5 linked regions of the Homo sapiens genome follow. The protein of the gene in region 4 purifies or fractionates together with the protein of the main gene of each other region. This does not show direct contact. Each region holds a gene or a part of one and is shown on either strand. Other genes may lie near its edges.

Evidence for each region.
Region 1: the proteins of GHRL (region 4) and UTP6 purify together in Homo sapiens (affinity purification with mass spectrometry; one large-scale study listed by BioGRID and IntAct). This does not show direct contact.
Region 2: the proteins of GHRL (region 4) and SIRT5 purify together in Homo sapiens (affinity purification with mass spectrometry; one large-scale study listed by BioGRID and IntAct). This does not show direct contact.
Region 3: the proteins of GHRL (region 4) and GNPAT purify together in Homo sapiens (affinity purification with mass spectrometry; one large-scale study listed by BioGRID and IntAct). This does not show direct contact.
Region 5: the proteins of GHRL (region 4) and NECAP2 purify together in Homo sapiens (affinity purification with mass spectrometry; one large-scale study listed by BioGRID and IntAct). This does not show direct contact.

The regions. Positions count from the first base shown.
Region 1 is NC_000017.11:31,879,919-31,885,850, forward strand, and holds part of UTP6 (U3 small nucleolar RNA-associated protein 6 homolog), read right to left. Parts: intron 4,588-5,932; coding exon 4,506-4,587; intron 837-4,505; coding exon 655-836; intron 1-654. UniProt on the Homo sapiens protein: Part of the small subunit (SSU) processome, first precursor of the small eukaryotic ribosomal subunit.
Region 2 is NC_000006.12:13,593,922-13,599,853, reverse strand, and holds part of SIRT5 (NAD-dependent protein deacylase sirtuin-5, mitochondrial), read right to left. Parts: intron 4,378-5,932; coding exon 4,290-4,377; intron 2,892-4,289; coding exon 2,838-2,891; intron 2,127-2,837; exon of another isoform or gene 1,990-2,126; intron 825-1,989; exon of another isoform or gene 823-824; coding exon 699-822; exon of another isoform or gene 213-698; intron 1-212. UniProt on the Homo sapiens protein: NAD-dependent lysine demalonylase, desuccinylase and deglutarylase that specifically removes malonyl, succinyl and glutaryl groups on target proteins.
Region 3 is NC_000001.11:231,265,212-231,270,183, reverse strand, and holds part of GNPAT (dihydroxyacetone phosphate acyltransferase), read right to left. Parts: intron 4,892-4,972; coding exon 4,764-4,891; intron 4,473-4,763; coding exon 4,397-4,472; intron 4,171-4,396; coding exon 4,019-4,170; intron 3,908-4,018; coding exon 3,777-3,907; intron 2,505-3,776; coding exon 2,281-2,504; intron 1-2,280. UniProt on the Homo sapiens protein: Dihydroxyacetonephosphate acyltransferase catalyzing the first step in the biosynthesis of plasmalogens, a subset of phospholipids that differ from other glycerolipids by having an alkyl chain attached through a vinyl ether linkage at the sn-1 position of the glycerol backbone, and which unique physical properties have an impact on various aspects of cell signaling and membrane biology.
Region 4 is NC_000003.12:10,290,087-10,296,639, reverse strand, and holds the start of GHRL (appetite-regulating hormone isoform 1 preproprotein), read left to right. Parts: upstream 1-3,692; 5' UTR 3,693-3,726; coding exon of another isoform or gene 3,727-3,798; exon of another isoform or gene 3,799-4,572; intron 4,573-5,188; 5' UTR 5,189-5,924; intron 5,925-6,430; 5' UTR 6,431-6,459; coding exon 6,460-6,553.
Region 5 is NC_000001.11:16,438,350-16,444,847, reverse strand, and holds the start of NECAP2 (adaptin ear-binding coat-associated protein 2), read right to left. Parts: upstream 4,125-6,498; 5' UTR 4,087-4,124; coding exon 3,995-4,086; intron 3,676-3,994; exon of another isoform or gene 3,550-3,675; intron 1,217-3,549; coding exon 1,116-1,216; intron 1-1,115. UniProt on the Homo sapiens protein: Involved in endocytosis.

The sequences.
Region 1 (5,932 bases), on a different chromosome or scaffold from region 4:
AACATGGTGAAACTCCGTCTGTACTAAAAATACAAAAATTAGCCAGGCATCGTGGCACACGCCTGTAATCCCAGCTACTCGGGAGGATGAGGCAGGACAATCGCTTGAACCTGGGAGGTGGAGGCTGCAGTGAGCCGAGATCACACCATTGCACTCCAGCCTGGGCAACAGAGTGAGACTCTGTCTCAAAAAAAAACAAAAAACAAAAAAAACCCAGGCACGGTGGCTCACGCCTGTAATCCTGTAACCCTAGCACTTTGGGAGACCAAGGCAAGTAGATCGCCTGAGCTCAGGAGTTCGAGACCAGTCTGGGCAACACAGTGAAACCCCGTCTCTACTAAAATACAAAAAAATTAGCTGGGCATGGTGGCGGGCACCCGTAGTCCCAGCTATTTGGGAGGCTGAGGCAGGAGAATTGCTTGAACCCGGGAGGTGGAGGTTGCAGTGAGCCGAAATCGAGCCACTGAACTCCAGCCAGGGTGACAGAACAAGACTCTGCCTCCCAATAAAAAAAAAAAAAAAAGGCCAGGCTCATCGTAAACTATGTTACAGAGACATCCCCAATATTGATTTTGGCAATGGGAACAGGAGCTTAAGTTTCACAATCAGGGATACTATTCCTTCTATATCACACCATGGTTTGGTGAAGTTCACCTGTTGGCAGAGTCTTCACTGCCTCTTCATACACAGCACAGCACCTCTCCTCCTTCCGGCCGACCTCCACTGCTTTGGCTTGTTTCGTTGTAGGCTGCTCTTCTGTCTGTGACTCAATCTCTAATTCTCGCCTTGCCACATAATCCCAAGTGAGAGGATCATCTGTGTGTAGAGCCTGAAGGCTGAAAAATACAATTTACTGTTATCAATCCCACAACAAGAAACTGACTCAGAATATCAGAGAAACAGTTACCTGTGCTTAAAAAATCTACACAGGACATCCCTGTAACAACTGCAGTACCATAAAAACTATTTCCCAGGCCGGGCCCGGTGGCTCACGCCACTGGGAGACCAGCACTTTGGGAGTCTGAGGTGGGTGGATCACCTGAGGTCGGGAGTTCGAGACCAGCCTGACCAATATGGTGAAACCCCATCTCTACTAAAAATACAAAAATAAGCCAGGCATGATGGCATGTGACTGTAGTCCCAGCTACTAGAGAGGCTGAGACAGGAGAATTGCTTGAACCCAGGAGGCAGAAGTTGCAGTGAGTCGAGATCGCATCACTCCAGCATGGGCGACAGAGCGAGACTCTGTCTCAAAAAAAAAAAAAATATATTTCCCAACAGGCTCTCCAGAATATGTTCACTAACTGTAGAAATTTTGTCAATGGATCAGAATTGTCCCACTTTTTCACTTTTTTTTTTTTTTTTTTTGAGCCAGAATCTCATTGCCACCAAGGCTGGAGTGCAGTGGCACAATCTCAGTTCGCTGCAACCCCCATCTCCTGGATTCAAGCAATTCTCCTGCCTCAGCCTTCCAAGTAGCTGGAATTACAGACGCATACCACCACGCCCAGCTAATTTTTGTATTTCTTTGGGAGAGATGAGTTTTCACCATGTTGGCCAGACTGGTCTCAAACTCTTGACCTCAAGTGATCCTCCTGCCTTGGGCTCCCAAAGTGCTGGGTGGGATTACAGTGTGAGCCACTGCACCTGGCCAGAGCTGTCCCACATTTATTGAGTTTCAGAATATTTCAGGTATCATTCACAAATGTTAACTTTCAAGTTAGCTCTCAAAGTCAAATCAGCAGTTATCTGTGACAACACAAGACTCCAAGAGACCTGAAGAACTTTTTTTTGTTTTTGAGATAGGGTCTGTCACCCAGGCTGGAGTGCAGTGGTGCCATCATGGCTCACTGCAGCCTCCACCTCCCAGGCTCAGGTGATCCTCCCACCTCAGCCTCCCATGTAGCTGGTACTACAAGTGCATGCCACCATACCCAGCTAATTTTGGTAGTTTTATTGTACAGAGTTTTGCCATGTTGCCCAGGATGGTCTCCAACTCCTGGGTGCTCAAGCAATAGTCCATCCCAAAGTGTTGGGATTACAGCCCCTGTGCCCAGCCTAAAGAACTTTATTATAGCTGAGCTCTTCATTTTCGTTTGTGTGTGTGTGTGTGTTTGTGTGTGTGTTTTAAGACAGAGTTTCTCTCTTGTTGCCCAAGCTGAAGTGCAGTGGCACGATCTCAACTCACTATAACCTCCGCCTCCTGGGTTCAAGCGATTCTCCTGCCTCAGCCTCCGGAGTACCTGGGATTACAGGCATGTGACACCACACCCAGCTAATTTTTGTATTTTTAGTAGAGGCGGGGTTTCACCATGTTGGCCAGACTGGTCTCAAACTCCTGACCTCAGGTGATCCGCCCGCCTCGGCCTTCCCAAGTGCTGGGATTACAGGCATGAGCCACTGCATCTGTTTTTTTTTTTTGGAGACAGAGTCTTCTCTGTCACCAGGATGGAGTGCAGTGGGACGATCTCAGCTCACTGCAACCTCCACCTTCCAGGTTCAAGCGATTCTCCTGCCTCAGCCTCCTGAGTAGCTGGGATTACAGGTGCATGCCATCACACCAAGCTGATTTTTCTATTTTTAGTAGAGACGGGGTTTCACCATGTTGGCCAGGATGATCTCAATCTCTTGACCTCAAGTGATCCGCCCACCTCGGCCTCCCGAAGTGCTGAGATTACAGGCGTAAGCCACCACACCCAGCCCAGGGTTCTTCATTTTCTAAATAATAGAGAAAAAGCACAACCTACTCCTCTCTCAAAACCCTGAAGATATCCAAACAACAGATTGATTCAAGTTCCATTTCCCCTCCTGTCAAAGGAAGAGGTGTTACCAAAAAACGGAAGTACCCACAAGGTAGGCTAAAAATATTTTTTTTTTCTTTTTTTGAGACAGGGTCTCACTCTGTCACCCAGGCTGGGGTGCAGTGATGCAATAACAGCTCACGGCAGCCTCAACCTCACAGGCTCAAGGGATCCTCCCACCTCAGCCCCGCAAGTAGCTGGGACTACAGGCACATGTCACCATACCCAACTAATTTTATTGTTATTTTTTGTAAAAACAGGTCTCGCCATGTTGCCGAAGCTTACAAATAATTGTTAAACCATATAATCAGACATTAAAGAATAAAATTACCAGCCAGGTGTAATGGCTCACACCTGTAATCCTTGCACTTTGGGAGGCTAAGGCAGGAGGATCACTTGAGCTCAGGAATTCAAGATCAACCTGGGCAACATAGTGAGACCTCATCTCTATAATTAAAAACATAAATAAATAAAAATATAATAAAGAAATAAAAAGAATAAAATTACCAGCACTCAACTATAAACATATGAGTATAACTCTCATTTTATGGATAAATGCCAGGAAAATAGAATTTAGAATTTTATATAAGCTTTAGATTTTTTTTTTTTTTTTGAGATGGAATTTTGCTCTTGTTTCCCAGGCTGGAGTGCAATGGCACAATCTTGGCTCACTGCAACCTCCACCTCCCGGCTTCAAGTGATTCTCCTGCCTCAGCCTCCCGAGTAGCTGGGATTACAGGTATGCGCCACCACGCCCGACTAATTTTGTATTTTTAGTAGAAACGTGGTTTCTCCATGTTGGTCAGGCTGGTCTCAAACTCTCGACCTCAGGTGATCCATGCATCTCGGCCTCCCAAAGTGCCGGGATTACAGGCTTAAGCCACCGTGCCTGGCTAGATTTTTTTTTTTTATTGAATAAACTATTTCCCCCAGTAAGTGAATCAAAGAACTCAATCAGGAAGATACTTTTTTTCTGAGACACGGTCTCACTCTGTGACCCAGACAGGAGTGGAGTGGCAGGATCACAGTTCACTCCAGCCTCAACCTCCCAGACTCAGGTGATCTTCCCACCTCAGCCTCCAGAGTAGGTAGGACCACAGGCATGCACCACCACACCTAGCTTATTTTTTGTAGAGACAGGGTTTCACCGTGTTGCCTAGGGTGGTCTCAAACCCCTGAGCTCAAGGGATCCACCTGCCTTGGCCTCCCAAAGTACTGGGATCCCAAAGTGTGAGCTACTACACTGGGCCAGGAAATTTTTTTTTAACGTAATATGATATTAATTTTTTTTTTTTTTTGAGATGGAGTTTTGCTTGTCACCCAGGCTGGAGTGCAATTGTGGGATCTTGGCTCACTGCAACCTCCGCCTCCCAGGTTCAAGCGAGTCTCCTGGCTCAGCCTCCCAAGTAGCTGGGATTACAGGCATGCACTACCACGCCCAACTAATTTTGTATTTTTAGTAGAGACGGGGTTTCACCATGTTGGTCAAGCTGGTCTCAAACTCCTGACCTCTGGTGATCCACCCACCTCAGTCTCCCAAAGTGCTGGGATTACAGGTGTGAGCCACTGCACCCGGCCAATATTAGCTTTTATTCCAGGGATTTAGTGTGGTATCTTCTTTCTCTTCTACTAAATATCCAACCTCAAACCCTTAATCTCAAGATCAGAAATAGATATATTCACCTTTCTACTAACTTTACTTACTCATCATAAATCTCTTTTTGTAGATCTTTGGCAAAGTCAAATAGCTGTGCAATCGAAAGCAGTGACACGTGAAATTCTGCACCTAAATTTAAAAAGCAGGGGAGGGGAAGTTTATTGCCAATAAGAATCACTTTACTTTAAAAGTAGCATTCTTTTCATGTACTGGAGTTAATCTTCTTGTTTTTTGAAATGAGAAATAGAATAAAATAGAAGAAAAGTCATCCCATAGTCCCCTCACCCCAGTGTCCCCCTACTCAAGCAAAGCTATTGTTAATCTTTGGAGTATTCATAAAAAAAGAACTAATTTTCAACTCCCCACGATTTAATTACTCCATGAGAACTTACTGAGGATTGGTGCAATGGCTCACACCAGTTATGCCATCACTTTGGGAGGCCAAGGCAGGAGGATCACTTGAGCTCAGGAGTTCAAGACTAGCCCGGACAACATGGTGAAACCTCATCTCTACTACAAGTACAAAAACTAGCCAGGCATAGAGGTCCATGCCCAGCTACTCAGGAGGCTGAAATGGGAGAATCACCTGAGCCCATGAAGTCGAGGCTACAGTGAGCCATAATTGTACCACTGCACTCCTGCGTGGGTGACAGAGTAAGACCCTGTCTCAAAAAAAAAACATGGAAGGATAAATGAGTACACGCTGGGTACAGTATACACTGCTCGTTGATGGGTGCACCAAAATCTCAGACATCACCACTAAACCTGTTCCCCAAAAACCTATTGACATTTTTATTTTTTTGAGATGAAGTCTCGCTCTGTTGCCCAGGCGCTCTCAGCTCACTGCAACCTCCACCTCCCGGGTTCAAGCAATTCTCCTGCCTCGGCCTCCCAAGTAGCTGGGATTACAGGCGCCCACCACCACACCCAGCTAATTTTTGTATTTTTAGTAGAAATGGGGTTTCACCATGTGGGCCAGGCTGGTCGCAAACTCCTGACCTCAGGTGATCCACCTGCCTTGGCCTCCCAAAGTGCTGGGATTACAGGCATGAGCCACCATACCCGGCCCAAACCTATTAAAATTTAAGGGAAAAAAATGGGAGTAGAATATAAATTTTAAAAAGAGACTTATGCCAGGCATGGTGGCTCACGCCTGTAATCCCAACACTTTGGGAGGCCAAGGCGGGCAGGTCACAAGGTCAGGAGTACGAGACCAGCCTAGCCAACATAGTGAAACTACGTCTCTACTAAAAATACAAAAATTAGCTGGGCAGGGTGGCACACACCTATAGTCCCAGCTACTTGGGAGGCTGAGGCAGGAGAATCACTTGAACCCAGGAAGCAGAGGTTGTGGTGAGCCGAGATCACGCCAATGCACTCCAGCCTGGGCAACAGATCAAGACTCCATCTCAAAAAATAAATAAGTTACTGAAATGTTCAATTATAGCCTAGGAAAAATAAGTATTTTCTGAAA
Region 2 (5,932 bases), on a different chromosome or scaffold from region 4:
TACGTGTACATCTGCATAAGAAAAGGTTTAGACCAGAGGTGGGCAAACTTATTCTGAAAATGACCATACAGTAAATTTTTCAGGCTTTGCAGGCCATTCAATCTCTGTCACAAGTACTCAACTCTGCCACTTGTAGTTTGAAAGTAGTCATAGACAGTGTGTGGAAGAATGAGTGTGGCTGAGTTCCAATAAAACTTTATTTCCAAAAACAGGTAGCAGGCCCAATGTGGCCCAAAGGCTGCTGTTTGCTCACTCCTGGGTCTAGAAGAAAACATACTAAACTGCTAACGGTAACTATTTCTGGATAGCAGAACTATGGGCGATTTCTAATTTCCTCTTTATAATGTGATAATTTTTGCATGTTCTCAATTAAATTTAATCATAAGCATGTATTATTTAAAAAACCAATAGCATGTTCTTTTCTTTGTTTTTGGTGGGGCTGGGGGAGGAGGCTTTGAGATGCCCAAGACATGCATGGTTTCCTATTTTAATACAAATTCTTATTCATTGTTTCTCAGTTTTTCTATAGGATACCACAAAGACCTCTCAACATACATTTGAAGGAAAGGAAGAAATGGAGGGAGGAGAGAAGGCGGGAAGGAAAGAAGCAAGGGAGGGAGGAAGGAAAAGAGGAGAGGGGGAAGGAAAAAATAACAAACTCCAGTCCTGTCCTGGGGTTAGGGAAGGGCATGACCCACCACTAGACATAAATCACAGTGGGCGAGCTCTCTGTCAACCTCCTCCAGAATGGCAGGATCCAGGTTTTCTCCAAACCACACGACGTGAGGTCGCAGCAAGCCCCCGCAGCCTGCCTCTTCACACCTGGAAGAATGGGATCCTTAAGCCAACCCCGAGCCAAGTCTGCCCAGCTGGATCGGAGGGAGGCCAGGGGCTGCCCCAAACCTAGTACATCCAGATGGGTCACCTCTGATGCCTCTTATTCCCTACACCCTCCCTCCCAGCCTATATAAACTTGCCTTGCTTATGAAGCATCAGGTTTAATGGTCTTTTTTTTTTTTTTTTTTTTTGAGACGGAGTCTCACTCTGCTGCCCAGGCGGAAGTGCAATGCCATGGTCTCCGCTCACTGCAACCTCTGCCTCCCAGGTTCAAGCAATTCTGCCTCAGCCTCCCGAGCAGCTGGGACTACAGTCATGTGTGACCACACCCAGCTAATTTTCGTATTCTTAGTAGAGACATGTTTCACCACATTCGCCGGGCTGGTCTCAAACTGCTGACCTCAGGTGATCTGCCCTCCTCGGCCTCCCAAAGTGCTGGGATTACAGGCATGAGCCACCGCGCCCTGCAGAACTGTCCTTATTTTTTATCTTGTCTGTATGTACTTGATGTGCTGACACATTGTTTCAGCTAAGCTTTCCCAGTTCATTCATTATGCTCACATTTGTGCTCACAGCCACCCAGACCTGGGAGACATACTGGACTCAGATTTGCCTCCCACCCCAAGCATCCCCTAATTTCATCAATGACCTCCTTTCATGTTCTCTCAGGTTCATGTCTCTCTGGCCCAGTATGTAGCCAGCTTTCCTGTGTCCATTACTAAAAATCTCTCTTCTTTCACTCCCTCCTACCTCAGGGTTACCTTCTATACACCTCCTAAAACCATCCCCCAAACACCATTTTCATCATAGTAATCTCCTGCATCACAGGAATCCTCCAGGTCTACCTATTCCTTCAGAAGAAAACTTTTAATATTTAGCAATTAAAACCCTCATGAGGAAAATTTAAAAGGTTCTGTGGTTAAATAAGCCAGTAAAGCATTAACATACGTATTACAACCACTTTTTAGAAGGCAGCAATGTGGATTAAATGCTCTAAAAAGTCCTGCAGTAAAGCAAACATATTTTAACTTTGTTTAGTCTAACATTTCCATATTTATTTGAGTGCCTAACATGTTTTTTTCAAGTAATGTCTCAACGTAACATTAAATTAATGTTCTATGAAACACTTTTAGAAGTGCTGTTTTATTTTACCTTAAAAACACTCTAATCCAGCCGGGTGCAGTGGTTCACGCCTGTAATCCCAGCATGTTGGGAGGCTGAGGCGGGTGGATCATCTGAGGTCAAGAGCTCGAGACCAGCCTGGCCAACATGGCGAAACCTCATCCCTGCTAAAAACACAAAAAATAGCCAGGCGTGGTGGCGGGCGCCTATAATCCCAGCTACTCGGGAGGCTGAGGCAGAAGAATCACTTCAACCCAGGAGGTGGAGGTTGCAGTGAGCCAAGATCGTACCATTGCACTCCAGCCTGGGTGACAGAGTGAGATTCCATCTCAAAAAAAAATAAAATAAAATAAACACAACAAAAAAACTTCTAATCCAATTACAGGTTATAGAAGTGCTGTTTTAATGCCTGGTTTTGAAAAATTGGCATAAAAATCTTCCTTTTTTTTTTTTTTTTTTTTAATCTATGAACATTCTGTTTGGTCCTGTAACCTCTCCTATTCAGGTCCTTTCATTGCCTCCCTAACCCTGGATTAATAATGCCAGTGATGTTATTTGACCAGTTACAGGTCAGCCCCTATGCTTTCTGTACACTGGGTAACCACCTGTCGCACGACAGCTTCAGAAACTTTCCCGACCTCAAATGATCCTACCACAACACAAAGCAAAAAGAGGTTGGAAAAAAATCATTCTTTTCATCCTAATTTGGTTCATCCTTTGTCCTTTCACTTTTGGTCTCAGAGATCAAGCCTGGTTTTTACATTTGTGCATTTGATTTAAGAGGCGTCTTGCCAAATACATGTTTAGGTTTTGATGTCTGTTTTTTTTTTTGTTTTGGTAACCTGGAACACCAGTACAAATCAGAGTTTTCTACCTACCGGGGAAGTTTCTCAACTGGGATGCTGGCATCTTGAGTTCCAGGTTCTGGAGCACTGAAGTAAATAATATTAGAAAAGAAAGATTGTTATTGGCATAATAAAAAATAAAGAAACAACATAACTCAGTTTGTATATTTGCCTGGCAGTATGTGGTATAAAACTCCTAATTAATACATGCTCACTTGGAAGGGCATTAGAAGGAAGGACCCCAAGCCATTAATTACCAGTGGTGCTGGGCACAGTGGCTCATGCCTGTAATCCCAGCATTTGGTGAGGCCAAAGTGGGAGGACTGCTTGAGGCCAGAAGTTCAAGACAACCCTCGGCAATACAGTAAGACTGCATTTCTACCAGAAATACAAAAATTAGCTGAGTGTGGTGATGTGTGCCTATAGTCCTAGCTACTTGGGAGGCTGAGGCAGGAGGATTGCTCGAGCCCAGGAGTTGGAGGCTGCAGTAAGGTGTGATTGTGCCACTGTACTCCAGCCTGGGAAACAGAGCAAGAACCTGTCTCAGAAAAAAAAAAATCACCAGTGGTTGTACTGCCAGTGAGGGAATGCATGTGTGGGGAGGGCTGGAGTGGCTGGGTGTGCCAAGGGGGAACTTCATGTTTACCTTTATACATCATCATCATCATCATTTGTATCCTCTGCAATGACATTATATAGTCCTTATACAATTTATACTGTTTTTAAAAGGCTGAGTGGAATTTTTCTCAATATTGTGTCTACCCTCAAATTTTTTCCTCATTGTAATAATAGTACATGTTCATAATAGAAATATAGGAAAATTCAGAAAGATATAAAGAAGAAATTAAAAATTACCCATAATCCCTCCACTCCTGATATTCCTTATTAACATTTTGTTGTATTTTCTTCTGGTCTTTTAACTATATACAGATACACGAACTCATTGTGTGTACAAATTTAGGACCCTGTGGTTTTCACTTAACACTGTAAGTTGTGAGCAAAATATTTCTTTTATCACATGGCTATATTTAGTTTTTTTGTTTGTTTGTTTGTTTTTTGAGACAGGGTCTCCCTCTGTCACCCAGGCTGTAGTGCAGTGGCATGATCTCAGCTCACTGCAGCCTTGACTTCCCAGGCTCAAATAACCCTCCCACCTCAGCCTCCCTAGTAGCTGGGACTACAGGCATGTGCCACCACACCCAGCTAATTTTTGTGGTTTTTTGTTTTGTTTTGTTTTTTTGTAGGACAGGTTTCTCACTGTGTTGCCCAGGCTGGTCTTGAACTCCTGAACTCAAGCAGTCTCCCCACCTTGTAACCCCAAAGTGCTGGGATTACAGGCATGAGCCACTGCACCCAGCCTTGTATTTAGTCTTATTTCTCATAAATATCCATGGGAATCTTTGATGAATGTTCAATTTCCTCACATTTATGTTCAACCTAAAGGAGAAAACAACCTATACTTATTCTGTAGTGTGGTATAATTACCCTTTTCCTGATAAAGCTGGACAAATTGGACTCTTGTAATTCTCAGCCACAACTCCACAAGAGGTACATCGAGTTTTAAATAAGCTACCTGAAAAATACATATGAAGCAAATCCAGAATTTAGTATAATCAAGAGCAACCTTCTCCATGTCTAAAAGGGTATAAGATACTTTATTTTTCACACTTCATTTCATGTTTTGGTCTCACCCAGTTACCCAGGCTGGAGTGTAGCAGTACGATCATAGCTCACTGCAGCTTCCAACTCATGGGCTCAAGCGATCCTCCCACCTTTGCCTCCTGAGCAGCTGGGACTATAGGTGTGCACCGCCACACTGAGCCATACTTCATTTTAGCAAATGGGCCTACCCTAGCTTTAGCTTTCATGGGAAACAGAGGCATGCAGTACTCTTAAGCCAGTCAAGAGCATATGCCCTCAAGGACTTTATAATCTGGAGGAAAAATAAATAACTCCATGACTAATGTGCCATCAGATGACCTTGGAGTGGTGTTCAAGTGGGCAGAAGTTGCCAATAGGGTAGAGGGAGCTCAACCTAAATCTAAGGGCGTGATTTATTGACATGACTGACAAAGGTTCAATGGCGTGGGATATGTTTACAAAATTTTAACTTCGATTTCAGAAAGCTTGAATCTTTTATACAAAAGCACCTCAATAAATAAGTAATCAACTAATAAGTGAAAAAAGTAATTGTTAATACTAACCACCACTTATTGAGCTGAAGCAATCATGGTGGCCACAGTTTATGAAATGGGTACCAGGCAACTGGTGCCGTGCAGAGCACTTTCAACCCTAGTGGACATGCGCTGCTCCGTCCTGCCCACCAGTCCTTCCTTGGGGAGCACCATCCCTGCTCTCTCGCATGCTGAGCCAATAGGGCTGTGGGTCACATCCCAAATACAAGCTCAGCCACATGCTGCGCACGGCCCCCATGTGGTGTCCATCCCTCTGCAGTCGTGTTTGGTCAGAAGGGTGGGCGTGTGGACCAAGCAAGCCTACCCAGAGGTTTATTTTCTGAGCAGGTGGCTGAGCTGGAGCCGTCGGAGGCACTCTCCCTTGGCGCGTGGAGACAGATCAATTGCAGAGAGAGAAGGGAGGCCACCTCAAAGAGTGAGCAAAGCTGAAAGAAGGAGGGGGACAGGGGCCGGGAGGAAAGATGACATAAGCTGCACCACTAGGCTCCTCAGTTTTGTGAGCCAATAAACCTACTTTGTCAGTTTTAGCATAGACATTTTTCCCCATTTTCACATCTCTGAAATTCAGATGTGTCCTACAATTGCTACTGGCCAGATGAGACTGTAACATCATCATCATGCTTGCACAGACTTGTTGAAGGAGAACACTGAAAAATGGGGTGACTTTGTTGTTATTCTCCGTGGCCTGACCGGGCAGATTCAGCCCCTGGATCCTTCCGCCAACAAACCCTTCAAGGGCCACTTCAGGAAGGAAAGCAAGTTTTGGCTGTTGTCTACAGCCTTTCCACTGATGCCTTTTGGTAAGAACATGTCAGGCCCAATAGCGAACTTGCGGAAGGTGTGTCAGGAGCTTGGATGAGAATCCCAGCTATAACAGAGGGGCATTCTCTCAGGAAACGCTGCATCATCCATCTCCCGAGACACAGAGCATGA
Region 3 (4,972 bases), on a different chromosome or scaffold from region 4:
AGACAGCTGCCAGGCAGGTAGAATTACAGAAGCATAATGAAGAGATGGTGATATTTAACAAATATTCTCAGCACGGAAAATTATTCTGCAGTTAACCTGAGCCAAAGAGCTGGCTGGCAGTGGCACACTGCTCAAGTTGGGTGGCAAGTTCTGCTACTGCTTCAAGGCAGGGACAAGTGAGAGGTATGGCTTCCTCCTGGACTTGATCACATTCATTCTTGAACAACTTGCCTTGTCTCAGCTTGCTCAATTGAATAATATTTTATGTGAAATGATCATAAAAAGCTTGAGATATGAACATGCTTAGGAATGTGGGGTAATCTGCATAAAAAAAGAAAAAAGGAACAGAACTGTAGTGACACTGAACAGATACTCTTAGTTATGGATTAGTTATGGCATTTATCCCATCCTGAAAAAGCAAAACACTTTAGAAAAACAAGTACCTATGTTTTCATATGTTCCTGGGCCAAACAATGATGGGTTTGAGCCCTTTTAGCTATTTCTCATGACATCCAACACTTGCTACTTGTATCATAATTAACACATCCTTTGCCTCCTACCAGACCCAGCCCATCACAGCACTGAGAACAGGTGTCTGATTTGTCTCTCTCTTGGTGACTGGCATTTTTGTCAGTAAATCCTCCTCATCTCTTGGCTGTGCCCTGAGTGCCTCCACTGCTGCGGCTCAGGCATCTCAGGCATCCTGCATTTCTCATTGGGACAGAGCAGCCTCCTAACTTGTTTCTATACCTCCAGTCTTCTGATGGTGGATGGTGGGGAGGAGGCGGGGAGGTCCATCTTTATTTTCCATCTACCCACCACCCCATCTGGGCCAACACTTTAATATCACTGATGAATCTCTGGGGCCCAAGCCTCCCATCTTGCATTCCTCATCCCTGCCTTGGCGAGGATCCTCTCCTGGTCTTCCTGAAGGGTTCAAAAGTCGCTTCTGTGAAGTCTTCCTGAGTATGGTCCCTTTCCTCTGCAGCACTCTCAGGAACCCTCTGCAGCATGCATGTTGCTCCTTGTCTCTGTTCACTGAACCCTCACAACTTGTTTACACATTACCCACCCACCCTGCCCTCTGCAACCCAGGGGAACGTCCAGGATGGGGATGGCATCTTGTTCATCTTCATATCCCTGGTAGTACCCAGCACAGAGGAGGTATTCAGTATTGGGTTGATCAAAGAACAGTAGGTACTTGACTTCAAATAATTATCTGGTCTTTAAAAAAAAACGCATTTCCAACTGTAGCCTGTACAATTTTTTTTTTTTTTTGAGACGGAATCTCGCTCTATCACCCAGGCTGGAGTGCAGTGGCGCAATCTTGGCTCACTGCAATCTCTGCCTCCCAGGTTCAAGCAATTTTCCTGCCTCAGCCTCCCGAGTAGCTGGGATTACAGGTGCACGCCACCATGCCCGGCTAATTTTTGTGTTTTTAGTAGAGACGGAGTTTCACCATGTTGGTCAGGCTGGTCTGGAACTGCTGACCTCGTGATCCGCCCGCCTCAGCCTCCCAAAGTGCTGGGATTACAGGTGTGAGCCACCACGCCCGGCCTTTTTTTTTTTTTTTTGGAGATGGGGTCTCACTATGTTACTGAGGCTGGTCTCGAACTCCTGGGCTCAAGTGATCCTCCCACCTCAGCCTCCCAAGTAGCTGGGATTATAGGTGTGTACCACCATGCCTGGCTAGGATTCATGACTTTATTTTCCACCGTACTAGGTGCCAAGGAAATGGTATTCTAGTCCTCAAGATATTCAGAGTCTCGTAGTGGGAAATGACATGTAAACAATTATTCTCAAATAATCAACGTGCTGTGTTCACTGTGTCCTATAGTGATAAAAACAGATTTGGTGTCCTTTCTCTTTTTCTTTCTTTTTTGAGACAGAGTCTCGCTCTGTTGCCTAGCTGGAGTGCAGTGGCACAATCTCGGCTCACTGCAAGCTCCGCCTCCTGGGTTCATGCCATTCTCCTGCCTCAGCCTCCCGAGTAGCTGGGACTACAGGCGCCTACCACCACGCCTGGTTAATTTTTTCTATTTTTTAGTAGAGACGGGGTTTCACCGCGTTAGCCAGGATGGTCTCAATCTCCTGACCTCGTGATCCACCTGCCTTGGCCTCCCAAAGTGCTGGGATTACAGGTGTGAACCACCGCGCCCGGCCTGTCCTTTCTCTTTCTGAGCAATCCTTTGCTCAAGTCCTCTATAGATTTTTCAGGTCCAGGTTTTAACTCTTCCAAATTAAGCAAGCATTCTCAACACATATGTCCTACCTACATACCAGGCCAAATGAGAAACCCTCCAAATGCCTGGGTTAAGCCTTTTAGCCATAAAGTCTTTTCCACCAGAGCATCAAAGTCCATGGATGGCCGGTTCTGAAGCAGAACAGCAACTATTAGGGTCCAGGGGCTCAAAACCATGTTTTCAATTTGCAGAAGCTCCATTTTGTAGGCAACTTCAGTGACAAAGGCATGCATGTCCTCAGACTGTTTCTGAGGAATGTATCTAAAAGGAAGAGCACAGAGCAACAAATTACAGTTCTGTTACTTAGACAAATGGGGATGGAAAAAGACTCTAGACGTTTTAGAAGGCTTCTCATACTTTGTGCCAACTGAATTCTCTCAGGTCAGGTGCAAACAGTATTCCTTTGCTTTACTATAGTGTAATCTGACCATACATTTCTGGAATATCCTCTTGAGAGATGGTAAAAATACTGAAGGGGTCCAGGGTCCTATTATTCCTGGTTCCAGGCAAAAAACTTTTGTTGCTTCCTAAATAGGATACATCGTTTCTCTGAGAATGGATGCCTGCCCCAGTAGACTAAATTACTATCTTTTCAGAATGCATAGCACGCTGAACATATCTCCATTGTAGAACACACTTAACAGATTATATAATAACTATTTTATACTGAATGGGTGCCATTCAGTTTGTCTGACTTCATGCATGGATTACCAAACTTTGAATAGTACAATAAGGCCTGCACAGAGCTGGCTGGAGCAGAGATACACACATGACCTAAAAATTGCCACACAGGTGGCTTAATGTGAAAGATGCAGCCAGTAAGGGTGCCCTGTACTAGGTAATAGCCAGCCAAACCAATTTGAGATCTAAAGAGAGAGCCTGTGTCAGGAAAAAAACTAACATAAGCGTCTGTGATGACTAATGTAGCTGCTGGGAAACTGCTAAAGCTACAGATAAGTTACAAATGATGTTGCAGCACATGAGGCCTGGAGGGGCAGATGGTTTGTCTCCCTTACTTGTCCAGGTATATTTCTCCTAATTAAGAAAACTCAAATGTGTATCTGTGTTCTTTATCCTGAAAGAACCTAATATATTTTCTTGCCTATAAAACTATAACTCTCTAGAGACTAAGGACTCACTCCCATTCATTACCATTATGCAATCCTTTCTAGGGTCAAAAATAATAGTACATACTTTGGCTAGCTTACCAATAGTGCTCAACAATTCCTGCACATATACTTGTTAATAATGGCATTATTTATTCCCACTTTAGTTCCCTTGAGAAACATGATCATTGTCTGATTTTGCATATTTGACATACATATCTCACAGCTTATCTTTTTTTGGGACAAACACATAATTCTTCTTTAATTGAAGGTTTCCACTGATGAAAACGGAATGATAACAGCATTTCTGATCATTTTCTCTGTAATCTTAAGTAAATCAAGAGAAGTGGTCAACTCCAGCATTGCAACTCACACCTTTGGATTTTAATCCTCATTTCTAAGACAGTTATTAAAACACAGGTCACACCTTGGAACCAAGTTATATGAGCTCCGACTCATCCTCCCAGCTGCCAAAGATCGAAGTGACACAGGATCTCCAAAGTACACATGGATGCTTCCAAAATTTTCAGAGAGAATCTTTCTGGCTTTCAGCAACCCCTAATAGTACCATAACAGGGGGGGAAGAAAACGAAAAGCAGTAAATTTAGAAATTAGTTGATGTGTCAGTCAGCACATTCTCTCAATTAAGCTAAAATCAAGCTCACGTACAGTTGTAGACTCTTTTGGTTTAGGAACCCCTAGAAGCTCATACACATAAAGAGTTTCTTCCAAGATCTTATCATAACTGATACTAATTGGGACAAGGTAGGTATCAAAAACTTCTCTTTTAAAAAATGGCTCCATCACAATATTCAGAAGACCTGCAAAACACAGGGAGAAATGCTTCATCAACATATTGAAGAGCAGAGCAAACATGAGCACATAAACGGAAAATACTAAAAGCATACATTATACACTAATCCCGTAAATATCAACAGTTATACATTTACACTTGAAAAGAATATCTTGTTAAATAAAGCGTCAAGTTTTATGTAGCAGCTGATGTCTTTGGGTTTGTATTTTTCCTTTTAATCTGTAGTGACCTACCAAATTTAGGAGTCAATGTCTTGGCAGAGCGGCTTCTTGTCCCTTCGAGGAAAAATTCAACAGGAGCATAACCATTCTTTAAAGAGAAAACAAACAAAACACAAAACCCATTGCCTACTCTCAAAATGATAAATGCTTCTTTTGATTCCTTTTCCCAAGCTCCCTCCCAAGCTTCCTGAACAAACACAGCTTACAGTGAAAATTAAACAAGAGAGTCACACAGATTAAACCAATTGCTGAGGTTATAAGCAGTTCTTGAGGGAAAGCAAAATAGCTAAGTGTTCTATTCAGAAGTTAAGAGTTTAAATGAGCAAACATCAGTGAAGAAAATATGGCTTAAGAGTAGTTGGGAATTATTTGCATTTACCCGTAACATAGTTTTTACATATTCAGAGAATACAGCCCAGTAGAGTTTATTGCCACCAAAGGTACGCCGCATGAAAAAGGCACCCGACATTCGTAGCAGCTCACCAACCATTTTCATTCCCAGGAAGTCTAAAAAAGAGGGGATAATATTTATTTGCAGATCTTGAAATCTTCTATAAAGATCTAAACTTAAACATGCTTATTTTTCAT
Region 4 (6,553 bases):
CCATCCAGAAGAACAAATATAAGAGTGGCAGCAGGCCAGGCGCCGTGGCTCACGCCTATAATCCCAACACTTTGGAAGGCTGAGGCGGGTGGATCACGAGGTCAGAAGTCCGAGATCAGCCTGACCAAGATGGTGAAACCCCATCCCTACTAAAATTAGCCAGACATGGTGGTAGGTGCCTGTAATCCCAGCTACTCGGGAGGCTGAGGCAGGAGAATTGCTTGAACCCGGGAGGTGGAGGTTGCAGTGAGCCGAAATCACGCCACTGCACCCCAGCCTGGGCGACAGAGCAAGACTCTGTCTCAAAAAAAAAAAAAAAAAAAAAGGAGCAGCAGCCAACTTCTCATCAGAAAGTAGGCAAACCATAAGAAAATTAACATCTTTAAAGTACTGAAAAAATTAAAAAAAAAAAAACCTGTCAGCCTCAAATTCTATACCTAGTGAAAATATATATATATTTTAATACAGACTCTTTCAAATAAAAGCTGAAAGAATTAATCACCAGCAGAGCTGCCATTACAAGAAATGTCAAAGAAGTTTCCTTCAGGCAGAAGGAAAATACTAGATGAAAAACAGGCTGGGCACAGCGGCTCACACCTGTAATCCCAGCACTTTGGGATGCTGAGGCAGCAGGATTGCTTAAGCCCAGGAGTGTGAGGCCAGCCTGACCGACATGGTGAGACCTTGTCTCTACAAAAAAAAATACAAAAATTAGGATTTACAAATACGACTTCAGGCCCAGCGCGGTGGCTCATGCCTGTGATCCCAGCACTTTGGGAGGCCAAGGCAGATGGATCACTTGAGGTCAGGAGTTCAAGACCAGCCTGGCCAACATGGCAAAACCCCATCTCTAGCAAAAATACAAAAATTAGCTGGGTGTGGTGGCGCATGCCTGTAGTCCCAGCTATTCAGGAGGCTGAGGCAGGAGAATTGCTTGAACCCAGGAGGTATGGGTTGCAGTGAGCCAAGATCACGCCACTGCACTCTAACCTGGACAACAGAGCAAGACTCCATCTCAAAAAAAAAAAAAAAAAAAAAAAAAAAACAAATATGACTTCAACATATTGCAAATACCTTCAACAACTCCGATATCCCTTTGCAAATATCCCTTTACAGGCTGAGGTGGGAGGATCAGTTGAGCCCAGAAGGTGGAGGCTGCAGTGAGTTGAGATCACGCCATTGCATTCAACCACAGGTGACACAGTGAGACCCTGTCTCAAATAAAAAAGAAAAGAAAAATGGATCTGCACTAAGGAATAAGGAGCAACACGATAGTAAATACCTGAGTTCATAAGACTTTTTCTTAATTTCTTTAATCTGTCTAAAAACTTTGGCTATTTAACATGCATTGTGGGGCTCATACCTTAAGTAAAAATAAAATGTGTGACAATAATATCACAAAGAATAGAAGTGGGGAAATGAAAGCATTCTGTGGTGCAGTTCTTACACTATCTGTGAAAGGATATCGTAGTTGTTGAAGGTATTCTGCAATATGTTGAAGTCATATTTGTAAATCCTAGAGCAACCACTCAAAGAATAGAACAGTACAGTATAGCTAATAAGCCGACGGTGAAGACAAAATGATACCATTCAAAACCCTCTAAAAGTGGTTATGACAAGAGAAAGAAAAGGAAGAACAGATGGGACAATGGAAAAATTGGTGACTTACAAATAGTCTGGAGATTAACAGTAATGTGCTAACACTGGTGTTTTAATTTTGATAAATGTACTACGGTTATATAAGATATTCACGAGTGGAAACTGAATTGGGTTATTCAGAGAGAAAGATTTCATCTTCCATATGTTTATATTTTCTGCTGGAAGCAAGCATTTATAATCAAAATTTACCTGGGATACTTGGTAATTTATAATCAAAATTACCTGAGATACTTGAAACAGATTCTAAAGCCCCCACGCCAGAGCTACTGGATCAGAATCCAAGGATGGAGTCTTATAAACGTGCATAAAACTTATGAAGCTTTCCTCATGAATCCAACACAACCCAACACAGGTCTGTATCTGGAAATTGAGACGAGATGGCCCTCCAAGCCACGTCCCACCCTGAGGTCGTCCTATGGCTCTTAGCGGTCCATAGACTAAAAGGCTGGATGATCAGCAACGCTGAGACAACAGTTTCAGTACAGCAGTGGGGATGAGAGGCAAGGTCAAGTTTTGAGGGGCCAGGACACAGCAAAGAAGAGGACACAAGGAAAGGGGAAGGAAATGGAGATGGTAACACGAGGGGAGGGTGGGATCGGTGCACAACAGACGTTTTCAGGATTAGGAACCTGGGTGTATTTTAAGGCAGAAAGCAGAAGCCACTGGAGGGGAACAGAAGACACGAGAGAGGCAAAGTGTTAGAGCTTTGGCCCCAAGATGGCCGGAGGCTAGGGAAGCCCCAGTGAGAGAGGCAGAGCTTGGCGAAGAGGAGGGATGAGAGAGCATGGCTAAGGTCAGGGAGGATTTAAGAGCGATGGCCGCCTATCTAGAATGAGCCGCATGTGGCTGCTGAGCATTTGAAACATGGCTAGTCCAAATTGAAATGCACTGTAAGAACACACACTGGATTTCAAAGACTACACATCTGTAATCCCAGCACTTTGGGAGGCAAAGTCAGGCAGATCACTTAAGCCAGGAGTTCAAGACCAGCCTAGGCAACATGTCAAGACTCTGTCTCTACAAAAAATACAAAAATTAACTGGGTGTGGTGGTGTGACCTGTAGTCCCAGCTACTTGGGAGCCTGAGGTGGGAGGATCATCTTAGTCCAGGGAGGTGGAGGCTGCAGTGAGCCATGATAGTGCCACTGCACTCCAGCCTGGGTGACAGAGCAAGAACCTGTCTCAAAAAAATATATATGTATATTCATTTAGACATATGCTGTTGCACACTTAGACTATAGTATGGTATCAGCATACGTTTTATATTTACTGGGAAACCAACAAAATTCGTGTGACTTGCTTCATTGTGGTCTGGGACCAAAGCTGTAATGCCTCCAAGGTATGCCTGTATATTTCTATTGCAAAATGTGAATCTCGAAATTATAAAAGCTACAACTAGGACAAAAAGCAACCCCACCAAATAGCCCTATATCAAAGAATAAAATCTCTTTCTAGAACCCCAGAATTTGCCTCTTTCAGACTGAAGTTTAGCCAAATCTATGAAAAAAGAGCTTGCTAAACCAACTAATTATCAGTACAAATAAAATTATAATGAAAAGTCTATGAAGATAATTTGTTCTCAGATGCCCTTCACATATAGCAATTAATTCACAAATGATGAGTCACTCATGTGCCTTCATGAAGGCAGGCCCTCAAGAGACCCGCAACAGAAAGGAAAGCCACCGACTGGAGAGAACCTGCTTCCTGAGCCCCACCAAGTTCCAAAAAGGAGAATGGGGCTTCGTCCTCACCCTCAAGGAGTTGCCAAACTGGGCTTGGTTATTATTCACACTTGAAAAGAATGAGGAAGGTCAGCCAGTCCCCTCCAGGTCGCTCGGGCTTCCTCCAAGCTCCTCTTGGTTCAAATTTGCTGTGTCCTCCAGCCGGCATCTCTCCTCTGTTCCGTAACTGACAGGGCAGCGAGGTAGCTTCCGGATGACTCCTCCCGCCATGGTTCTTCCGTCCATCAGCTCTTCCTTCCTCAACTCTGTGGTATGTGGCTAGGGGAGTTTCCAACTCCCAGGGGACATTTCAGTTCCCCAAAGATAACACAGCTTTGCACAGTGGATGTTTACTTGCTGGTGGTCTTATCTAAGATCAACATTGGCAGCTGTGCCCGGAGAGGCCTCCAGGGTCCAGGTAAGTGGAGGCTTCATGTCTCAGGAGGTACCTGGTCACCACAGTTAGGATTTTTCTGTTTGGGGATTTTTTTTTTTATGGGTTGGTGGCTCTGAAAAAGCTGCAAGTCTTCTCTGAGGACTACAGACCTCTCTCCACCCTCTCCACATTCAGCCTCTCTGGGCTCCAGGGCCAAAAGATGTCTACACTCAGGTGGCAGACAGGCCTGTGAAGACCTCCTGGTGACATGCTCATATGTTGCTGGGACTAAAGGTGGGATTTTAGCCACCACAGTGGGTTGGTGGTGAGATGTTTACCAACAGGAGGTACTTTGTCCCTCATGTCCACTTAAAGATTCAGTCCAACCCGGCCTGTGCTTCTGCTGTCCCAAGAGACTCTAGAAAGCTCCAATCCTCCCTGAGGTTGATCTTTTAAGTCAGGGTAGGTGGTCATTCGGCAATCAACTGCTCTACTGCCTCAATGTCCTCCTCACTGGACGTCCTGCCCCAATTCCATCCTGTTCAGCGCAGACTGATTTTCCTGGAACACAATGTTCATTATGGAGCCAGATGGCATATCAGAAAGAGCACTGTATTAGGAGTCAAGAGATCCATGGGGGAATCCCAGCATTGCCCCTGATGGCTGTATAGCTTTGGGGAAAGTGAGGCCCTCTTGGCATTCAGTTTTTCTTCCAGCGAAATAAAGGATTCAGCCTCCCAGAGCTTTAAAGTCTTTCCAACTCTTTCATTCATTCTATGGTCTCTCTCTCCTCAAGAATCCTCAGTGGCTGCCCTCCTGCAAAAAAAGCCCAAACTTCTTGGGCTAGCAGTTCCCAAGGCATCCATCACCTGGCCCCAAACCACCTTCTTATGTTTTTGTTATGACCCCATCGCCACCCTCCCCCAAGCCACCCAGCCTTCTCCATGCTGCCCTGATGTACTCTACCCACGCCTTCACCTCCCCTCTGCTTGCCGCAAAGCCCTCCCTCCAAAGCCCTGCCCCGAGTTCACCACAGGCCTCTTTCCTGGAGCCTTTGCTAACATCCCTGCCGCAAGCCCCAGCCTAAGGTGAGCTCCTCTCCTGAACTGCTAGAACTTCTCTGCAGACAACTCATTGGCCCTTAGGGGTTCCTGCCTGGGCACCCAGTTGGATGAAGCACTCCAGAAAGGAAGAAATTCCTGGGGCCGAGGGAAATGAGGCAGTGGCCTTGGCCTATGCTGGGAAGTCCTATGGGCCTGGTATGAAACCATTGTCATCTGCAGGGTGTTTCACAGGTTAGAAGCCACTTTCCCCCCATCGCCTCATTTCACCCTCAAAGACTCTGGGTAAGGGGAATTATTTGTGGTCGGCGTAAGGCCAGTCAATGAGAGAGGAGCCAGGCCCGTGCTAAGCGTAGATCTTCCACCTCCAGGTCCAATGCACTTCCCTCTCAGAAGAGGCATCCGCTAAAATAGGGACCAAAGCTGCTGGAGGGAGGCAAGGCAAGCTGCTATGTGAAAAAACGCCAGGCCAGGCAGTCATGTCACACCTGGCAGAAATGACTGAAGCATAGCCACTGGCTGAAGTTATCCCCACACCCACTCTCTGGAGAGGATGATCAGGAGCAGTCTGCTCAACCGGGAGGTGGGACTCCTCCTCGGGAAGGTGTAGAATCACCAGCCTGGCTCCCTGCGGACTCCCGGGGCTCACAGAGGCCAGAGCAGCAACAGCACATGGGAAACAACGGGGCGCTGGACTGGGGAGGTCTCAGAGCTCTCCTAGTGATGACAGCCTCATTTTACCCAGGGAGAAAGGGCGAGTAAGCTAAGGTCACACAGCAACAAAGCTGCACCCAGACCCCAGAGCCACTCTCCTCCCTCCCTCCTCCACCAGGGCCATGCCCACTTGGGGCACCCCGCCACCGTGTTCCAGGGACAGCTGGAGCACATGCTTCTTCCCTCGCCAACCCAGCAATTCCGCAGGGCATCTGACCTCCACTGTTGACTTCTACCCAGAGGACAAGAACATTTTTAGTTCCCAAGGAATGTACATCAGCCCCACGGAAGCTAGGCCACCTCTGGGATGGGGTTGCTGGTTTAGAACAAACGCCAGTCATCCTATATAAGGACCTGACAGCCACCAGGCACCACCTCCGCCAGGAACTGCAGGTAAGCTCTCTCTACTCTCCGTGTGCGTTTGCTGACAGGTTTATTGTCCGTGACTGCTGCCCGTCCGTTTAACCTCTCTGGGCCTCAGGAGTCCCCTCTAAACACGGGGGATGTCGGACTGTCTGGCTGGAAGACAGAGCTTCATTTAGGAGCTACCTCTAACCCCCTCCCTGCTGAGTGCCCTGGGGCCCTTGCTGGTTCAGCTTCCTCCCTCCTCATGAAAAGACTCGCCATGAGCTCTCAGAGCCTGGGACAAAAGGCACCGGGGAGGACCCCCAGCCCCTATCAAGTCCTGCTGCCAGGTGTTCTGCCCTGAACGGCCTTGGAGAAGAGAACACACATCCATCATCTTCTACCTTGGGAGGTGGAAGCGGGGGTCCTCTCTACACAGCAGTCAGGACCCCAGATGGTAAAGCCCTTCACGCCATCTGCTGGGCTCCTACCTGAGCAAGCTCAGAGGCACATGAGAAGGGGAGGCAGCTGCCTGGAGACCCTCTCTCCCCCAGGCCCACCTGTCTGCAACCCAGCTGAGGCCATGCCCTCCCCAGGGACCGTCTGCAGCCTCCTGCTCCTCGGCATGCTCTGGCTGGACTTGGCCATGGCAGGCTCCAGCTTCCTGAGCCCTGAAC
Region 5 (6,498 bases), on a different chromosome or scaffold from region 4:
CCATCTAAAAACAAATGATTTTTTAAAATAAAGTCGCAGTTACCAAATTCCTCAGAGAACGAGGTGTTACCATTCTCTTATGACACTACCTGGGGTGTCCCAGCAATTCTCCAGCTTAAAGTCTCTGGTCTGGCCATGGCAGCTGCCTCTCCAAACTCCTCTGCCGCCAGTACCCAAGTTCCCGAAGAACACATCAATGCTTTGGGTTGCCTCGCAGTCCGTAAAGCATTACAGAAATATCTGCTCACTTCCTATTCTCCAACAATCTTATGAAGGAGGAACTAATATGATCCCCATTTCAACAAGGAGGAGGCCAAGGCCCCAGAGGTCATGTGGCTCACCCCACATCCAGCAGCTCAGGCAGAACATAGTTCTGAGAAGAGGCAGCCAGTTCTCTCTCTAAACTTTTGCACTTTCTCTTCTGCTCTACAAAGGAAAATCTCTACATATTAGAAAAAATAAATGACCGAATGTTGTGGCACCTGACTGAGCAGACACTGTGTCCGACCCCACTAGGGGTCTCGGCTGGGGGATTCCAGGTGCACTGCCCTCCACAGCTCACCCAGAGGCACAGGTGGCCCAGGACTTGTGAAGTTTCCCCCAAGACGATCTCTGCCAGCTGACCCCAACACAACCCAGCTCAGCTCGTCCTCTCACTACAGAAAGAGCTGAGTAGGACAGTTTCCAGCTTCTTCGGTTAATGGGTGTGGTCAGCTCTGGGAGTTACCGCTGCATTGATAAACAATTCCTCAGTAGGAAGCAGAGCCCAGCGGCAGAGGGCTGTGCATCCTCACCCGCCTGTCTTCAAGGCCACTTCCAGGGCTTCCTACTTCCTACCAGGACCAAGCTGCGGTCTCCTCTCCTTGGCCCCCACATTTTCCTGAGGACTCCTAAAAGGAACTAGTGTTTGACATGAAATACTCATTTTTACACCTGGAGACGGTACTTTCTACAACTAAGGTGGGGGAATGGTACAGCTTAAAGGTACACACACGTCTCTGATTTTTCAGGACAGGTTCCCATGACCCCTGAGCAGCCTGGCCAGACCAGGCCACCTCTCCCTTCATAAAGTGGGGTGCGGCCCCTCAGCTTGATGCAGCCTCCCTTCCGGTTACCTGACGTCCTGTCCTCCAGCTTGATGTAGGCCATCTGTCCCTTTGCAGTGATCCTCAGCCGGCCACTCCATGATGGCTGGTCCAGCTGCCACTCCGCAGCCCTAAGGGGACAAACACCACTGAATCTCTGCCAGAGGCTCCTGCTGTGTGACCCCAATGCTGGGAATGGAAAGGGCTGCTTATTCTAGCCCAAGAGTTGGCAAACATTTTCTGTAAAGAGTCAGACAGTAAATATCTTTGGCTCTACAGGCCACACAGCCTGTCACAACAAGGCAGCTCGGCTGCTGTAGGGTAAAATCAGTATAGAACATGCACGTGGTGATGCTTTAGGTATCTTAACTATTTTCTACTGAGCACAGCTGTATTTCAATCAAAGTGTAGACACTGAAATCTGAAATTCATGTAATGTTCCCAGTATGAAATACTCTCCTTTAAAAATTTTCCAAACCATTTAAAAAATGTAAAAACTATTCTTAGGTGTGAACCATACAAAAACACACTGGGTTGTCACTTGGTGACCCCCTCTCTAGACCACAGTGTCCTCCTCCACGTAGGACTTCCTTCCAGTTTCCTTTCTATAGAAGCAGCAGCTGCAGGGGCCTGATTCTGTTTCTGACACTGCTTGACTGCAGCAGTCAGAGCGACCATTTGAGACCAGTGAGACTATCTTGAAAGAAAAAGACAGCATGGAACAATCACCAGAAGAGAAAAGGAGAACAACAGTACATGTGAGAAAAGTGAATGGGTCCTTAGGAAGAAACCCAGGAAACCATGAACCTACAGCAATGCCTCTTTTGGCTCTAATTTGTTTGAGACGGGGTCTCACTCTGTCACCCGGGCTGAAGTGCAGTGGCGCAACTACGGCTCACTGAAGCCTCAACCTCCTGAGCTCAAGAGATCCTCCCACCTCAGCCTCCTGAGTAGCTGGGACTACAGGTGTGTACCAACACACCAGGCCAATTAAAAAAAATTATAGAGATAGGGTCTATGTTGCCCAGGCTGGTCCTGAAGTCTTGGGCTCAAGGGATCCTTCCACCGAGGCTTCCCAAAGTGTTGGGATTACAGGCGTGAGCCACCACAGCCAGCTGTTTTGACTCTTTTAAAGCATTAACTTCACATTTTAGTTCTAAGAAAAGGTCAGTTAAATCCCCAAATAGCAAGAACCGCAGGTGTTTCCAGGAGGCTTTTCTTAGAAGTCCCTATGCCAGTTCTCAAGAACCCTGGACGCGGCTGTCTTGAGGGCTGCACAAATGCAGATTCTCAATTCACAAATCAGCAGACTCAGTTCCTGTTCCTCTTACCAGGCCTGAGATTCAGGCTAAGGAGAGCTCCAAGACTTAAGTGCAGGCACTGGTAGTTTCCTCTAAGCTAAACCAGCCAGCCCTGACAATTCATAACCTCGCTCTCTGGGGCACCAAGAGGAACCAAATCCATCCTACTAAAGACCCAATAGGGGGCCGGGCGCGGTGGATCCTGCCTGTAATCCCAGCACTTTGGGAGGCCGAGGCGAGTGGACCACCTGAGGTAGGGAGTTCGAGACCAGCCTGACCAACATGGAGAAATCTCATCTCTACTAAAAACACAAAATTAGTCGGGTGTGGTGGTGTATGGCTGTAATCCCAGCTACTCGGGAGGCTGAGGCAGGAGAATCGCTTGAATCCGGGAGGCGGAGGTTGCAGTGAGCCGAGATCGCACCATTGCACTCTAGCCTGGACAACAAGAGGGAAACTCTGTCTCAAAAAAAAAAAAAAAAGACCCAACAGGAGATGGGGCTAGACGACCATCAATGGTTTGATGGTCCAACCACAGTTTGATGACAGAAAACAAATGTATTTTGGTTATTGTTGTTTTTGTTTTTATACTATTTTAAAATATGTCATGAATGTAATGTTCACTAACGCATCTTTTCACCATAAGATCAGCTATGAGCCCACGGTAACACAACTGGAAAGTAACAAGAGGAAATGTGGACGTTCCATCATTCTTGGGGTGCAGACCAATCCTGTATTTCCGAAAAACTTGGACAACCATCGCCTTCAAGAGCCACCCAGGCCCCCGCAAATACGAGCACTCCCCACCACCACTCAGTGGCACAAAATAGCCATAGGCCAGGTTGTCTGTATGAAGTGTATCTTTTTTCTTTTAATATTTTTCGTCGTTTTGATAGATAACGCATACAAAGAGTAGTAAAACGCAAACAGCACAAAAGGGAAAGGAAGTTTCCTTCCAAGGGCGGTTCCCCTCCCCTAGGGCAGTTTCCTGTGTTCCTTTGCAGAGATACTCAGTATGTTTACAAGCGTGTGTGTTTATTCGTCTCAGGTAGAGACCAGAGAAATATAGAAGGGGTCCTCCCAACTGCTCCAGGCTGTGATCAAGGGTGAAATTCGTGCGAAGGGATCTGGGTAGGAAGGGGTCCCTGGGCTTCGACCGTCACCTTAAAGCTCCCCGGGACCGGTCCTTTCAGCCGGCTCTGGGCTCCCTCCCCTCCTCTCGGGGATTTCCGTCTGTGATAGGGCACCTCCCCGCTTAAGGCTTTTCGAGGATCCCTTCAAGGCCACCGGTTAGCGCTGAAAGAGAAGCGTCTGTGACATCACCACCCCCGACCAAGTTTAGGGTACCCGGCAGCCCACCGGGGTCCCTAAGCGCTAGATACGGCTTTAACGCCCTCCCCGCCGCCAGGAGTCCCGTGCGTCGAACTGAGACGGGCGAAACTCTGGATCCACCTCCCTGCTCGGGCCTGGAACTGGAAGAAGCAGCAGCATTAGCTCCCCCTCGCCCCAAAACTGGCCAGGGCTGTCCTCGGTTCCCGCAGTGGGTGTGTCCGGGTGGCGGAGAAAGGGTTAAATTGGAGCTAGCCTGGTCTGGCGGTGGGTAGTCACCTGTAGCCACGGTTGGTAGCCCGCGGAGGGATGCGGTAGACGTGGACGTCAGGCTTGACACAGAGCACCGACTCGTACCCGCTCTCCTCCATCGCGACGCCTGGAGCCCACCGAACTTCCGGCGACTTCCACCGTTCCTCTGTCCGACGGACGGAAGCGGTGCGACTCTCTGACCAGGTTTCGGCTAGAGCGGCAGCTCGCGGGCCTCAGCACCGCCTCGTTTGTGCGCCCTCTGCTGGAAACCCGGCTCAAGACACGTGGCGGGCGACCTCCGGAGGCTTCTCCCTCCCTCCAGAGGCTTCTCCTTCCCTCCAGACACCCTCCGACGCAAAGAAAGCGCCCTGCGCCCGCCATGGACAGACCCCTCTGTAACCCGTGGTCTGGGTGTGGATCATCCCCATCGCTTCAGTTTCTTAGGCCTGGGGCCCAGTTGACCGAGAGGCAAAGCTGTAGCCCACCCTGCAGTATCTCTGTCCTCCAGCCTTTGCCTCGGCGCCTCCTCTGCCTGAATATCCTTCCCTCTCCTGACTGTAAGGCTCAGCTGGCACCTGACCCACCAGACTAAATAGATGCCATTACCCTACCACCCTCCATGCTTCCCCTAGGGGAACCCACTTATATGCTCAGGGCCCCGTGTGGCCAAACCTCAACAACGAGTTGTATTCAAAGAAGTAAAGTTTAGTAACACAAGTAATTTAAGAAGAATTCCAGGCCGGGCTTGGTAGCTCACGCCTGTAATCCCAGCACTTTGGGAGGCTGAGGCGGGCGGATCACCTGAGGTCAGGAGTTCGAGACCAGCCTGGCCAACATGGTGAAACCCCGTCTCTACTAAAAATACAAAAATTAGCCGGGCTTGGTGGCGTGTGTCTGTAGTCCTAGCTAGTTGGGAGACTGAGGCACTAGAATCGCTTGAACCCGGAATGCGGAAGTTGCAGTGAGCTGAAATTGTGCCACTGCACCTCAGCCTGGGTGACAGAGCGGGACTCTGTCTCAAAAAAAAAAAAAAAGAAGAAGAAGAATTCCAGTCTTAACTTCGATTTCTCCCAGAATATTCTGGGAGATACAATGTCTACCCTAGCCAAATTCTCAAAATCCCTCCTTCCCTACCATTCTCTCATTGAGTTGAGTGCCTGCAATGTGCCAGCCCCTATGTGGGGGTGAAGCTGATCCCAAACTTCTGATTCACTGAATACCCCAAACTTTCCCCACCCCTTCTTTCCTTTTCTCTCTCACTCTCCTTCTCCTTTTTACTTTTTTTTTTTTTTTTCTTCAGACAAAGTCTCACTCTGCCGCCCAGGCTGGAGTGCAGTGGTGCAATCTCGGCTCACTGCAACCTCCACCTCCCGGGTTCAAGCGATTCTCCTGCCTCAGCCTCCCGAGTAGCTGGGATTACAGGCACCCACCACCAAGCCTGGCTAGTTTTTGTATTTTTTTGGTAGAGACGGGGGTTTCATCTGGTTGGCCAAGCTGATCTTGAACTCCTGACCTCAAGTGATCCGCCCACTTCGGCCTCCCAAGTGCTGGGATTACAGGCGTGAGCCACCACGACTGGCCATTTCTACTCATTTTTTATAAGCTTTTTATTATAGGATTGATCTAACCACTTACATTTTTATTGTAAAATATACATAACATAAAATTTACCATTTTAAGTGTACAATGCTGTGAAATTAAGTACATTCACAATATTGTGCAACTATATCATGCTTTCCAGAACTTTTCATCATCCCAAACAGAAACTCCACACCCATTAGCAATAACTTCCCATTTCCTTCTGCTCCATCCCTTAGTAACCTCTGTTTTACTTTCTGTCTCTATGAATTTGCCTTTTCTAGATACCTCTTATAAGTGGAATCATACAATATTGGGCTTTTGTGTTTCTTATTTCACTTAGCATCAAGTTTTCAAGGTTCTTTCATGTAGCATGGATCAGAATTTCATTCCTTTTAATGGAGGGATAATATTCCATTGCATGTATATACCATATTTTGTTTATCCATTCATCTGTCAACAATTGGGATGTTATCACCTTTTGGTATTGGGAATCGGGCTACTATGAGCATTGGTGTTCAAACACTTGTTCTAGTCCTGTTTTCCATTTTCTTGAGTGTATACATAGGAGTGAAACTGCTGAGTTATACAATAATGCTATGTTTAGTGGTTTTGTTTTGTTTTGTTTTGTTTGAAACAGCATCTCACTCTGTTGCCCAGGCTGGAAAGCACTGGCATGATCATGGCTCACTGCAGCCTCAACCTCCCAGGCTCAAGTGATCCTCCCAACTCAGCCTCCCAAGTAGCTGGGACTACAGGTGTGAACCACCATGTCCGGCCTTGCTCACCTTTTTGAGGAGCCTCCAAACTGTCTTCCACAGCAGCAGCACCATTTACGTTCACAAGGGTTTCAATTTCTTCACATTTTTGCAAATATTGGTTATTTTTCTTTTCTTTTCTTTTCTTTTTCTTTTCTTTTTTTTTTTTTTTTTAGACAGGGTCTCTCTCTTTCT